Linked DNA regions of Homo sapiens. Changing the gene in region 3 together with the main gene of any one other region gives a genetic interaction. Each region holds a gene or a part of one and is shown on either strand. Other genes may lie near its edges.

The links.
Region 1: changes in EIF3D (region 3) and NCAPD2 together harm fitness less than expected from each alone (positive genetic interaction), as found in Homo sapiens cells (one large-scale study listed by BioGRID).
Region 2: changes in EIF3D (region 3) and EXOSC9 together harm fitness more than expected from each alone (negative genetic interaction), as found in Homo sapiens cells (one large-scale study listed by BioGRID).

The regions. Positions count from the first base shown.
Region 1 is NC_000012.12:6,510,637-6,515,622, forward strand, and holds part of NCAPD2 (condensin complex subunit 1), read left to right. Parts: coding exon 1-174; intron 175-473; coding exon 474-616; intron 617-3,628; coding exon 3,629-3,756; intron 3,757-3,827; coding exon 3,828-3,951; intron 3,952-4,136; coding exon 4,137-4,284; intron 4,285-4,986. UniProt on the Homo sapiens protein: Regulatory subunit of the condensin complex, a complex required for conversion of interphase chromatin into mitotic-like condense chromosomes.
Region 2 is NC_000004.12:121,810,858-121,815,442, reverse strand, and holds part of EXOSC9 (exosome complex component RRP45), read right to left. Parts: intron 3,861-4,585; coding exon 3,772-3,860; intron 2,210-3,771; coding exon 2,063-2,209; intron 1,578-2,062; coding exon 1,396-1,577; intron 94-1,395; coding exon of another isoform or gene 71-93; exon of another isoform or gene 1-70. UniProt on the Homo sapiens protein: Non-catalytic component of the RNA exosome complex which has 3'->5' exoribonuclease activity and participates in a multitude of cellular RNA processing and degradation events.
Region 3 is NC_000022.11:36,522,221-36,527,206, forward strand, and holds part of EIF3D (eukaryotic translation initiation factor 3 subunit D), read right to left. Parts: intron 3,912-4,986; 5' UTR 3,902-3,911; coding exon 3,779-3,901; intron 3,490-3,778; coding exon 3,444-3,489; intron 2,513-3,443; coding exon 2,376-2,512; intron 1,761-2,375; coding exon 1,675-1,760; intron 1,062-1,674; coding exon 989-1,061; intron 1-988. UniProt on the Homo sapiens protein: mRNA cap-binding component of the eukaryotic translation initiation factor 3 (eIF-3) complex, a complex required for several steps in the initiation of protein synthesis of a specialized repertoire of mRNAs.

The DNA of each region.
Region 1 (4,986 bases), on a different chromosome or scaffold from region 3:
CGCCACTCCCAGGAGCTTCCAGCTATCCTGGATGATACAACTTTGAGTGGATCAGATAGAAACGCCCATCTAAATGCCCTCAAAATGAACTGTTATGCTCTGATACGTCTCCTGGAATCCTTTGAGACCATGGCCAGCCAGACAAACCTTGTGGACCTGGACCTTGGTGGGAAGGTAATTTGGAGTTTTGGGCTCACGTTATATGGGGTCTGGGGAGATAGGGGAATAGATGGAAAAGAAGGGAATCCAATGATCCACAAATCCTTTCTGTCCTCATTGAGAATTTAGGAGAAAGAACTCAAAAGTGTCACACGTTTTCTTCCTGGACAAGTAGCGCTGTGGAACTTGTAATATTTCTTCCGTATTACCTTCTATGTTGTCTTGGTACTAGATTGTTTGGGCACTCAGACTGACAGATCTTGACCCACTTTTTTCCCTTATTTTTTCCTCAATGTATACATGATCCTTTTTAGGGTAAGAAAGCTCGGACCAAGGCAGCCCATGGCTTTGACTGGGAAGAAGAGAGGCAACCAATTCTTCAGCTTTTAACACAGCTACTTCAGTTGGACATCCGTCACCTGTGGAACCACTCAATAATTGAAGAAGAATTTGTCAGGTGGGTAGGGAGGATGGCTACAGATAATACTGAGCTGTGAGAGTGAGGCTCTGTTGATAGATATGCCGTTTTTTTGGTTTTGTTTTTTTTTTGTGGGGGGACAGAGCTTCACTCTTGTCGCCCAGGCTGGAGCGCAGTGGTTCAATCTCGGCTCACTGCAGCCTCTACCTCCTGGGTTCAAGCAATTTTCCTGCCTCAGCCTCCCGAGTAGCTGGGATTACAGGTGCCCGCCACCACAAGCTGATTTTTGTATTTTTAATAGAGACGGGTTTTGCCATGTTGGCCAGGCTGGTCTTGAACTCCTAACCTCAGGTGATCTCCCTGCTTTGGCCCCCCAAAGTGCTGGGATTACAGGTGTGAGCCACCACGCCCAGCCAGAAGTCTATTTTTAAAATAAGTAAAATAAGTTTGATGGAAGAAGGTTGTGATTTTAAATCAGCTACTCTAGGCCCGGTGCGGTGGCTCACGCCTATAATCCCAGCACTCTGGGAGGCCGAGGCGAGTGGATCACCTGAGGTCAGGAGTTCAAGACCGGCCTGGCCAACATGGTGAAACCTTGTCTCTACTAAAAAAATATGAAAATTAGCTGTGCATGGTGGTGTGTGCCTGTAATGCCAGCTACTTGGGAGGCTGAGGCAGGAGCATCACTTGAACCTGGGAGAGGGAGGTTGCAATGAGCTGAGATCGCACCATTGCACTCCATCCTGGGCGACAAGAGCAAAATCCCGTCTCAAAAAAAATAGATAGGGCCAGGCGCGGTGGCTCACGCCTGTAATCCCAGCACTTTGGGAGGCTGAGGCAGGTGGATCACGAGGTCAGGAGATCGAGACCACGGTGAAACCCCGTCTCTACTAAAAATACAAAAAAAAATTAGCCGGGCATGGTGGCGGGCGCCTCTAGTCCCAGCTACTCAGGAGGCTGAGGCAGGAGAATGGCGTGAACCCGGGAGGTGGAGCTTGCAGTGACCTGAGATCGCGCCACTGCACTCCAGCCTGGGCAACAGAGCAAGACTCCATCTCCAAAAAAAAAAAAAAAAAAAAAGATAGATAGATAGATAGACAGACAGACAAACAGACAGACAAGCTACTCTAGTAAGACTTCTTTGAGATGGTGACATTTGAGCAAAGACCCAGAGGAGGTGACTGAGAGCTATGAGAATATGTGGAGGAATAGCAAGGGCAGGGAAAAGGAATAGCATATGCAAAGACCTTGAGGAGGGAGCATGTCCAGCACGTACGAGCAATAGCAAGGAGGCCAGAGAGCTGACAGCTGAGAGCAGGTACGAGGGTTAGGCCGTGAGGCCATGGGAGCAGTGGGGAGCCAGACCGCAGGTTCTTGTGGGCCATCATGGTGACTTTGGCATTTCCTCAGAATGAAGTGGAGCCACTGGGGAGCCACAAGCAGGGAGGTGAGGTGACCTGACTTGTACTTCAACAGGGCCATCCTAGCTGTTGTATTGAAATCGACTATGGAGGGAAAGGGGAAGCAAGAGACCAGTTAAGAGGCTGTTCCAATAACTCAAGCAAGAGATGATGGTCTCTTAGACCAAGGCGTGGCAGTGGAGATGGGGAGAAGTAGTTGGATTCTATACTTTTTCCTTAAGGTAGAGCTTACAGGATTTGCTAACAGACTGGGTGTGAGGTGGGAGGGAGAGTTCAGTCAAGGATGACTCTCCCGGGTTTTGGTCTGAGCATTTGGAAGACTGGAGTTAATGGTAACTGAGATAGGGAGAAGGCTGTGAATAGGTGTTTTGGGAGGAAGATCAGATGTTCTGTTTTGGACATACAAAGTTTGAGGTGTTTATTAGCCACGTAAAGTCAGATTTGGACGTTGAATATATAGATCTGGAGTTCAGGAGAGAGGTCTGAGCTAGAGATAACACATTTGGGAATATAATAGTATTCAGAGCCGTGAGACTGAATGAAATTACCAAATCAGTAAGTGTAGCTAAAAGAGCAGGAATCCAAGGACTGGTACCCTAGGGCACTCCAGCATTAAGAGTGAGGATGCCGGGTGCATGGCTCACGCCTATAATCCTAGCACTTTGGGAGGCTGAGGCAGGAGGATCACTTGAGCCCAGGAGTTTGAGATCAGCCTGGACAACATAGTGAAACTGTGTCTCTACAAAAAATAGAAAAATTAGCTGGGCATGGTGGAGGCTGAGGTGGGAGCATCACCTGAGCTATGAGGAGGTCAAGGATGCAGTGAGCCGTGATTGCACCACTGCACTCCAGCCTGGGCAACAGAGGCAGACCCTGTCTCAAAAAAAAGAGTCTGAGGAGGAACTAGCCAAAGAAACTGAGAAAGGAGTCTTGTTCTTGTGTCCTGGAAGCGAGATAAAGCATATATTTCAAGGAGAAAGTGAGTGATTAACTGTATCACATGCAGCTGTGAAAGACCACTTGAGATGCAGATTGAATCAGTCGTTATATTTAGGAATGAGAAGTCATTGGTGACTTTGTCTTTTTTTTTTTTTTTTTTGTGATGGAGTCTCGCAATGTCGCCTGGCCTGGAGTGCAGTGGCATGATATCAGCTCACTGCAACCTCCACCTCCCAGGTTCAAGGGATTCTCCTGCCTCAGCCTCCCAAGTAGCTGGGATTACAGGCGCCCACCACCACACCCAGCTAATTTTTTGTATTTTTAGTAGAGACAGGGTTTCACTATGTTGGCCAAGCTGGTCTTGAATGCCTGACCTCGTGATCCACCTGCCTCGGCCTCCCAAAGTGCTGGGATTACAGGCATGAGCCACCACACCCGGCCAACTCTATCATATTTTTATGATATATTTAGGTTCTTTGTCAGCATCACAACTGGTTGAAAGTTGGTAATCTTGAAGGAAGGAGTACCTAACTGGGGTCAGCAAAGCAAAGCAACTTGTTATAGAAAGTAATGGCTAGAATAAAGAAAACCCTGACTTTGGGAGCAGTAGGGATAGAATGAATGAGGCAGGGCTCTGATACAATTGGATTCAGACAGCTGCTTTCATCATCTCAAACTCTTCCTTTCTCAGTTTGGTTACTGGCTGTTGCTACCGCCTTCTGGAGAATCCCACCATTAATCACCAGAAGAACCGCCCCACTCGGGAAGCCATAACACACCTGCTTGGTGTAGCCTTGACCCGTTATAACCATATGCTCAGTAAGTTACCAGTCGCTTTGCCCCGCCTTTTTTGTATTGCCCATAATTTCTCATGTTTAATGCTTCCACAGGTGCTACAGTGAAGATCATCCAGATGCTGCAGCACTTTGAACACCTGGCACCTGTACTGGTTGCAGCCGTGAGTCTATGGGCAACTGACTATGGAATGAAGAGCATAGTGGGAGAGATTGTAAGGTGACTCTTCCTTCTCGAAGTTTCTCATGCTTATTTTCCTTGGGGAGGGAATAAAGAAAGATTGGAAATACATTATCTGTGCAACAGTAGATTCCTTCAGATATTAGATACCTGTCTTACCTTCCCTTACTGGGAACTGAATAATTGATCTATGTTGCTATGGCTGTGTTTTCTTCCCTGTGTAGAGAGATTGGACAAAAGTGTCCCCAAGAGCTGAGTCGAGACCCTTCAGGGACAAAGGGCTTTGCAGCATTCCTGACAGAACTAGCAGAACGTGTCCCAGCTATCCTGATGTCCAGCATGTGCATTTTGCTAGATCACCTGGATGGAGAAGTAGGTGGTCCACTAGGGGTCACTGAGCTTTTTCTGGGGATTTTAAGTCCAGTGTTGAAAGGCTGTTTCTTAACAGAACAAGAAAGTAGCTTTGACAAGTTGTCTAGATTTATCATTGTGACATTTCCTTTCTGTAGAGAAGCAGGTCAAGTTTGTTGAATAAGGAGCTCTTTATTAATCTGTTAATCTTTCAATTCACATTGCTTTTATCCAGTTCTGGTAAGGGAGATGACATTTCTGCAGCTTAAGTCTAGTAAGAGCAACTCAGCTTTGATTTTTTTTTTTTCTTGGAGGTAGGATCTGGCTCTGTCACCCATGCTGGAGCATGATCATAGCTCATTGCAGCCTCGATCTCCTGGGCTCAAGCAATCCTCCCACCTCAGCCTCCCAAGTAGCTGGGACTTCAGGCACATACTACCATGCCTGGCTAATTTTTTTAGTTTTTGTAGAGGTGGGGTCTTGCCATATTGCCCAGGCTAGTCTCAAACTCCTGGTCTCAAGCAACCCTCCTGCCTCAGCCTCCCAAAGTGCTGGGATTGCAGGCGCTACCATGCTTAGCCTTCAGCTTTGATTCTGAGTCCCATCTGTTCCTCAGGATAAAGCGTCTTCCCACCAGCTGGCTTGCCTTGCTTCCTCAAACAATGAACTTTCTCAAATCAACCCATGTCATCTCTCTCAATTCTCTTTTATGCCTGAATGCTA
Region 2 (4,585 bases), on a different chromosome or scaffold from region 3:
TTTAGGAAGGCTGTACCTGCTCCATTTTTCCAATGCTTAGGTCCACCTTCATTATATTCAGTTGAAAATATTATTCACTGTTAGAAGAATACACTAAACAAACATATAAGAGGTATATGCAAGTGCAAGGATATTAACAGTGAGAAAATGGAAACAACTTACATCTTCAACAATAAGAGAATTGTTAAACCAACTAGTTATATTCAATGCTATACAAGTATATGCAGCATTAGCTTACATCACTGCACAGAGAGTAAATAAATACCTGGAACAAGTTCTGGAAGAATAATACCAAATAGAAGTAACCACTGGGAAATTTGAGTAAGGGTCCCAATCAATGGGAAATTTTTTCCTTACCTATTTACTTAAGTAAAAAAACAAAAAGCCCAGGCTCCAGTAATGTTCATAAGCAATAATTTCTCTCTTTGAAAACAGAAGTATTTGCATTACATTCCTATTAAACACATCACCTTCAATTTTCCCTGCCAGCCTAGCTCCCAGTTCCTTGTAGGATTTCTGTTCTTACCACGTAAGAAAATAAGTCATTCTATTATATAGACCAGCAAGAATTTGCTTTTTTTAAAAAGTAGAAATAACCATACATAACAACTTCAGTTCTATGGCTTTCAGAATGCAAGAAACGTCTAGGACTACCAGTATTCTAGTTACTTATAGAATTTTTTTATGTTCTAATACTGCGATGTCTAGCATGGTAGCCACTAGCCACATGTGGCTGCTTAATTTTGTATTAAGTAAAATTTAAAATTCAGTTCTCAGTAACACAAGCCACATTTCAAGTGTTCACTAGCCATGTGGGGCTAGTGGCTGCTATACCAGTGTAGATACTTAATGTTTCTATCATCATAGAAAGTTTTATTTAGGCAGTATTATATGTTATGATATGGGATGGGCTTTTTGTTTCAGTCTAGAAACTACAAAAAAAAAGACAGCAGGGAGGAATAAGATCTTCAAGAAACTCATTCCCTTAAAACCCACCCACATACATACACACACACAAAATTTTTTTAATTAAAAATATCACTATCATTTATGCCAGTGTTCCACTACTCTACAAAGATATGCATATTCTTTTAGAAAGTAGCATTAGTATTGCAGCTAGCCACAATAATTTAGTTGAAATTTAAATCACAATATTTAGCCCCTCTAAAAATGCAATACTTACATCCCTATATATAACTACATATCTATATTCTCTCTATATAGTATCCTGTATGTTATTTATCCACTATACATCTCTATATAGCTAATATGCTATATATTACTATATACAGTGATAATATAAATATACACACATTTTATGCATTATATATATAACTATACGGTAATACTATATGTATGTAATATATAGTAAGTGTGCCATAAAGTGTCACCTACCTTGGCTTCCAATATCAGAGACTTCTACTCCAGTGTCCATTTTTATACCATCAAGAATGATAGCTTGATCACCACCGCCTTCATCATCTTCCTTCTCAGAGTCTTCAAGATCACCCCAGGAGTTTTCTACTCCCTCTCCAATTTGGGCAGTTCCAGGAGTCCATAGCACAGGTGTAGAAACACTTAACAAGTTAAGAAAACTGAGTAACAAAAATATTGCTATTTGATGAACTGTTGAAGATGAGAATGAAAGTTTTCTTCTTGTAAGATTGATTCAAGTGTGCCCCAAGTTCCTAGGGGAAAAAAAACTTAATATAGCTACACTATGGATGGCTGAACAATGAAGAAGAAAAAAAACTCAGGCAAGATTTTATGGATGCAATTAATAAGAAATGTGAAGAGACAGATTCTCTCAACATTTTAGTTATAGTACTAAATTAAATTGGTCCTTAAAATCTGTTTTTTCCAGGATAACTGAATAGAAGCTGAATGTTATACCATCAACAGAATATGACTCACATCTCTATCTTGTATTTTAAGTGTTTTCTCTAACAAAGTACAGTGTTTACAAAAACTAATTTCAGTATACACATCCTTCATATAGCCTAATATTATAATGCCAAGTGTTATGAATCTTGTTACTGCAAAAACCACCAAATAAAGATACACTTCTGAAGGAGGTTCTGCTTCAGCAATGATTTCTTCTGCTTTTTCTTCTACATCCGAGGTATCAATAGGGGCCTTTTCCATTTTAAATGCTGTGATCCTTTGATTTGCTATAGACTCTGCAAAACCAAACTTTCCACCTTCTTTCCTGTATGTGGGGGTTTTTTTGGTGGGAAGGAAGGGGGAGGAAGGTAACAGATTGGATAGAAGACAGGAAGGGAAAAAAACTATTATTTTATCCTTTGGTGGATGAAAAATATTGGAAGAGAGTTAGTTTATCTAACTTAACCTCACCAATTTATTATGCCTAACAAGAGTAAATAGTTAGCATAATCATTTATTAAACCACGTGCCAGACCATGTGCTAGGTGCTTAAAATATACTATTCTCTAACCCTCAAATCAGCCCTACCAGGTAGTGTTAATATCCCATATTATAGAAGAGGACACTGAAATGCTGGGTTATGTATCTTGCTTAAGATAGCACAGTAAGAGGTAGAGATGGAAATCAACCTGTTTCCTTCCATTAATTTGAGTTACTAGATTATTTTTATCCTAAGAAAATGTTAACTGCTAAAGAAAAATCTTATGTCTCCAGGCACGGTGGCTCACACCTGTAATCCTAATATTTTGGGAGGCCCAGGCGGGTGGATCACCTGAGGTCAGGAGTTTGAGACCGGCCTGGCCAAAACGGCGAAACCCCATCCCTACTAAAAATATAAAAATTAGCCGGGCATGGTGGTATGCATCTGTAATCTCAGCTATTTGGGAGGCTGAGGCAGGAGAATCACTTGAAGCCATGAGGCGGAGGCTGCAGTGAGCTGAGATTGCACAAATGCACTATAGCCTAGGTGACAGAGTGAGAAGTGAGACTTCATCTCAAAAAACAAACAAAAATCTTATATGATTTTTCAATATAGGTTACATTTAAATTGCAGAAAATATAACAAGTCCAATTTTCTAAAAACACATTAAATAGTATACTCAATTCAGATTAACAAATAAGGAAAGATCAAGTGTGAAATTTATATGGTTGCCCTCGTTCAAGGAAGATCCTTAAGAAAAAAAATATATTAAAAGACCATTTAGGGCCATTTCCTGTTCCCTGTGTTGTATCTTGGAGTCTGGATTAATGAAGACCTCTTGCTCTTAGGAGGGTCTTTCCTCTTTATTGTTTTAGAATTCTGGACTTGACCCAGACTTAAATTCCCATCTGTGATGCATTTTGCAATAAGTGGGTTTGATGCCAGCACTTTGAAAGATATCCCTCATAAAACAAAAGGACAAGAATCACCAGCTCCCACACAAAGTAAAAAACGTGAACCTAATTTTAGCAGTGTTAATAAGGAGCAACTATCCACAAGTCACTGCATCAATAATGCTTGTGTTATAACATCCTCTCCTCCCTAAGGCACAGGAGCAAGTGACACATACTTGTCTGGGAACCAGTTTCATTAATACTTTTATTGTATCCGTCCAAAGATGAGTAGCAATATCTGTTACCAGTTTCACTACCTTTCGGAGTTTTGGGTAACATAACTATACCATGGTATTTACACTTTTTAATGAGTCAATTTTAATTGAAATTGCCATTCTAACTTTGTATGTGAAATCAAGTTCATGCATAATAAAGCTTGCTTATACTAAAAAAAATAATAAAAATTTAAAAAATGAAAATAAAAGACCACTTAGTTCTGGAAAAGTTACTTACCTTACTTTTTGGTCATTCTCCAAAGCTTTCAATATTAGCTCTGTAATTTCTGCTACTTTCACACCAGCGATTTTACTGCATCTCAGAACCTATTTATAAAAGTGAATTCTGTTGTTTAAAGACAATAAACCAAATAGTTTTCTCTAATGAAACTAAAACCATGAAATTTTTCTACCTTTATAATTTAAGCCTGACTTTTCCAAACATGAATACAATGTAAACACAGATTAAGGCAAGATGTGAAAGTTGTTTTAAGATATGTGAAGGACTGTCACATCAAGGGAACAGACATAAAAACTTTCTTATACAACAGTATAAAAGATACCACAGAAGAGGCCACAGACACATATATGCTCCAGGATGCACTAACTTCCTTTTTCTGTGGGTAATCTGGGTAGTACTTGTGATGCTGGTAAAGATGATGATGATGATACCAGAAACTAACATTTATTGCACACTTAATAAATGTGTGCTAGACACTGTGCAATATATTTATATCCTTATAACAACAAGGTGTTGGCAATAACATCATTCCCTATTTTACAGATAAAGAAAGTGAGACCCAAAGATATAAAATCATTTGCCCAAGATCAGCTAGTATGGGGGCAGAACTAGAATTCAAACTAAAGAAGCTTTTAATCATCTACACTGTATGCTATATGGAGATCTATTTTCTAAAAGCTCCCATGTGAATATGATATATAGCTGGGTTTCAGAACTACTGCCAATTGTAGTTCTAAAAGTGCAAGTAAAACTATCTTTTTACATAATGTCTACTATTGGATGTTTAAAAATTTTTATTTGCTTTTGAGAC
Region 3 (4,986 bases):
GTGCATGCCTATAGTCTCAGCTACTCAGAAGGCTGAGGTAGGAGGATCACTTGAACCCAGCAGGCAGAGGTTGCAGTTGGCTAAGATTCATGCCACTGCACTCCAGCCTGGGTGACAGAGCAAGACTCTGTCTCAAAAAAGAAAAGAAAAAGAAAACAGTATTCTTGGGATGCAAACCCCGAGTATATGGAGGGCCGACTTTTCATATATGTGGCTACCACAGGCCGAATGTGGGACTTGAGAATGTGTAGACTTTCATATACTGAAGGAAAACTGTACCGACACATGCTACCACATGGATGACTCTTGAAAACACGCTAAATAAAAGCTGCCAGTTACTAAAGACCACATATTGTATGATTCCATTTATGTAAAATGTCTAGAACAAAAAATCCCGAGACAGAAAACAGATTCATAGCTGCCTACTGCTGGGCTACTGGGGGTGCTGGTGTTTGGGTGTGCCTCCTGGAATTCATTTGGCAATCTGGTTGCTACTGCGGCAGTGTCGGGAGGTAGGGCCTTTAAGAGATTAGGTCGTTAAAAGGAATAAATGCCTCATGCCCTTCTCTCAGGAATGGGCTAACTACCCAAAGTTTAGCCCTTTTCTCTGTTGCACCCTGCTCCCGCTTCTGCTTTTTCTGCCATGCTATCAAGCAGCATGAGGCCCTCACCAGATGTGGCTCCTGATCTGGGACTTCCCAGTCCCCAGAACCATGAGCTAAAGAAACCGCTTTATAACTTACCCACTCTCAGGTATTCTGTTCTAGCAACGGAAAACAGATCAAGACAGGGTGACTGCTAAAGGGTAAGGGATTCTTTTGAGGGTGATGAAAATGGTCTGAAATTGACCAGTTACAGAACTCTTCAAATATATTAAAAACCACTAAATTGTACGGTATGTGAAGTATATCTCATCTAAGCTATTAATAAAGACAACCAAATAAACAGAACCAAATTCCAAGGCAGAATTCTGGTATAAATACATTACCTGTGATTTCTGATCCCATTTCTGCCTAACCCCAAATTGTTTCTGGAACTTTTTCTGCAGTCGAATGCGTTCTCTGGAAAGACAGACATATGATCTCAGTGCAGACCTTTAAACCAGTGGCTTCTTCAAAAGGCACACGCTGCCATTCTCTTCAGCTAAACCTTACCATCACCACTAACTCCTTTAAACTACGAAAAATGGGCTTAGAGAAAGGAAGAGACCCAGACGGTGCATACTGGAGGTGTTAGAAAAGGTACACTGCCTCCAAATACTGACCAGATGATTTTACTTCATCTATAGTGACTGTTCACTGATAGTTCCAATCTGGGGTGTAGTGGCCGCTGGACCACACAACACCAGGAGGCTCAAAGGACCAGCATACAGGGGGCTTCCTAGAGTTGACCCACAGCAGAACTGAGCCCAGGTAAGCTCCAGAGCCTCTTCTTGCCTGCCTGTGTTTCCCTTTAGTGCGCATGACCAGCACAAGGAGTTAGTTTCCTGCCCATGCTATCTGCCATGAACCAGCCTGAGAACGACAAGCTAAAAGGGGGCTTAACTGGTTGTAGAAAGTATTTTCCTTTTTTGCAGTGGTGGGGAATACAACCATCCTCCTGCTTTGGTCCTGTGGTTTCCAAATACGGCCAGTCTGGGAAGGGTGTCTTGTTCCAGCAGGATGAAAATCTCACCTCTCTTTCTGTTTGGCACTCTTAGGCAGGATCTGCAGGTTGAACTGCAACATGTTCCGACGATCTTTGTCTCTGCGGAGGTTCCTCTGGGCATCAGCAAGAAACATCCATGTTAAAATCTTGGAGATTTGGCTCACAATAGGCAGAACAAGTGGGAGGTCTTTGGAGTAAATTTAGGATGCCAAATCCCAAGTTTCACATCTTACTCTGTGCTTTCACTCTACGGCATCAACAGCTTGGGGGTGTTAGGGGGTAAGTGCTTGGACTTTGCTTAGACCTATACTCCCATGATATATTTTTCATTGAAGTATGTTTACTGGGTCTCATTAGATTTTCTGAGTTTGCCTCTTTAAATAATAATAGGCAATCTGACTGGACCATCTACTTAATAAAGTCTGCACACAGCAATTAAGTGTGGTAACAGGCACAGGTGCACCTTCTTATCCAGCACAAATGTTTTTAGCATACAAGTCTGATGTCCTAGCTACTGGCAAACAGAAATATAAACTATTTAAATGCATCCCTGATCCTAGTGCAAGTTCACCTTGGTACCACTTGTTATGGAACGGTGACCCGAGATTCACGAAAAGACCTATAATATGCTTCCCTCTCTCATTAGGAGTCACAAGGTAGCATTTTTTAGCAGGTGATGGCCAACAGTAACAGCCCCAAGATGGTGTGGTTGCTGGCTCTTGGCCTACCTGGGCAAATCTCATTCGATTCCGCTGGTAGGCCGTCTTCTGTGTGCGCGCTGTATCCACCAGCTGGAAGCTACTTTCATCCTCCTCATGGAAATAAGCATATTGACTTCCACCACCAAACTGAGAGGAGTACTTATCTGGAGGCAAAGGTGATGGCATGTAGTAACTGCACCCACAGACTTTACCAGATATGCACCAGTCTAAAGCCTTGCTATTTCAAGTGTGGTCTTGAGACCTGTAGCATTGGCTGAAAGCTTGTTAGACACACAGACTCACAGTCCCACCCCATACCCACTGAATCAGAACCAGCATTTTAACAAGATCCCCGGATGATTCATATGCACATTCAATTTTGAACAACTCTGGCCTAAAGAACTTTCTAAGCCAAGAATCTGAAGGACTCAAACTAACCCATTTCACTCTCTGCGTTATTGTGTGAGAATCTGAGGTATTTATTGCTAACCACCATCTCCATTATCAGGGGCCCATGGCAGGTATGTCTAATAGATCACGATATACTTTCTTGCCAATCTCAGCCTCAGCTATCCTAACTTAGTTCTCCAGGCAGCCACCTCCAACTATCTGAAGTGGCAGAGAGAAAAAGCCTTTTTATGGTACCAGGATCTTAAAACCAGGGGTTTTACTTTTTTTTTTTTTTTTTTTTTTGGAGACAGGATCTGGCTCTGTCACCAGGCTGGAGTACAATAGCATGATCTCTGCTCACTGCAACCTCTAACTTCTGGGTTCAAGTGATTGTCCTGCCTCAGCCACCCGAGTAGCTGGGATTACAGGTGCACGCCACCACGCCCAGCTAATGTTTTCAACAGGTTTTTAAAAGGGCCCAAAACCCCATTTTAATAGGCTAGACCTCTTTAATGAATGGTCTAAGTTTTGAGGGCTATTTCCAAAAATGTGGTTATTGTTAAAGCCCAGAATACATCCCTAAAAGTTATGAATTATTGTTGGCAGTTTCTTCCCATTCTAAAAAGCTTTCAGAAGAAGGTCATTAGAATAAAGAACAACTTTCCCAAGGCCCTGATTGGGGCATTCAGTTGCAGAAACACTTACTTGTGTACCTCTTATCTTGGTATGTGGCTCCTGTCCAGTCTGCAACCTACGAAGAACAAGAAAAGACAGAGAATGCACAGGTCAACCAGGCAAGTTTCTGCAGAACCAGAAATCCCTGAGCGCGAGAGGACAGCGTGGAAGAGTCTCAGAATTTGTTCACAACACCTCTGTAAGTGCCCAGCTCTTCTATGACTACACCCAGAGATAACCTTTCTCAGCTGGCATCCCTATAAGAAATTCAGGAGTTAAGATTTTGAGACAATAAAATCTAAACAGGGACTCGAGAGTAGCAGCCACAGCTGCAAAGATTCAGACTCCTGCTGACAGGCATGTACCTTTCCTAGCCGATCTCCTTTGCTGAACGGCTGGTAGGGCATATCCCGAAACTGCTCGGGAACCGCACAGGGACCCCAGCCTGAGGGGTTGTCCTGGATCACGGGTGTCATGAACTTTGCCATCTTCCAAAATCTGAAAAATATAAATCATGTGAGTAGCGGCATGAACGAAGGCCTCAGAGTACAAAACACCCTCCATATGAAGTAAGCAAAGACATAAATGATAGAACTCAAAAAGCAACACGCAAAATGGAACCCTCAACTGTTGAGCGACTACTACTGTTTTTGTTAATTATACTGTGAATATGTACTTAAAACTGAGAAGAATGCAAACAAAACTGATTTTTCATATTTCATTAATTCCACGACACTCTCTTTTTACTGTAACATCTTTAAAATGAGGCTGCACCTTGTGTTTGACAGGGTGTTGTATTGATTGGTAGTTTTTCTTTTTCTGTGTTACATAAGTGTTTAAAAAAATTTAATGGTGTCAGATTTGATAAAATGTCCTAATGTTTTTTCAAATATAGTAACCTTGTTTTGGTTCTGAGATATACCTTCACCAATTCATACAAACTCAACTTCCCTAAGACTTAGTAGTCTTTTCTTTCTTTCTTTTTTTTTTTTGAGACAGAGTCTCACTTTGTCACCCATGCTGGGGTGCAGTGGCGTGCAACTTCCGCCTTCCGAGTTCAAGCGATTCTCCTGCCTCAGCCTCCTGAGTAGCTGGGATTACAGGCAAGCGCCGCCTGGCTATTTTCTGTGTTTTTAGTGGAGACAGGGTTTCACCATGTTGTCCAGGCTAGTCTTGAACTCCTGACCTCAAATGATCCTCCCGCCTCGACCTCCCAAAGTGCTGGGATTACAGGCGTGAGCCACCACGTCCAGCCACCTTAGTCTTTTCCATCTGCAAAATAAACAAGATCCTTGTTCTAAGCACTTTGTATAATGCCACACAAGTATTCAGACTTGCAAAAGTGCATTTATGTATATAGAGTGCTGAGAAAAAAAGATCTTTAAGTATATCCTGAAATTCAATTTTCCTTTCTCATTGTTTCAATTTTCTGCCATCAACGCAAATCCTGTGTGCAGTGCAAGCGGACATAAAGCCAGGCAGAAGAACTGCCAGAGGGCCAAGGAGGTCCCCACAGACCTCAGGCCCAAAGTTGCCATGTTAAATGTTCATGAATACTGCCAGGCACTGTTCT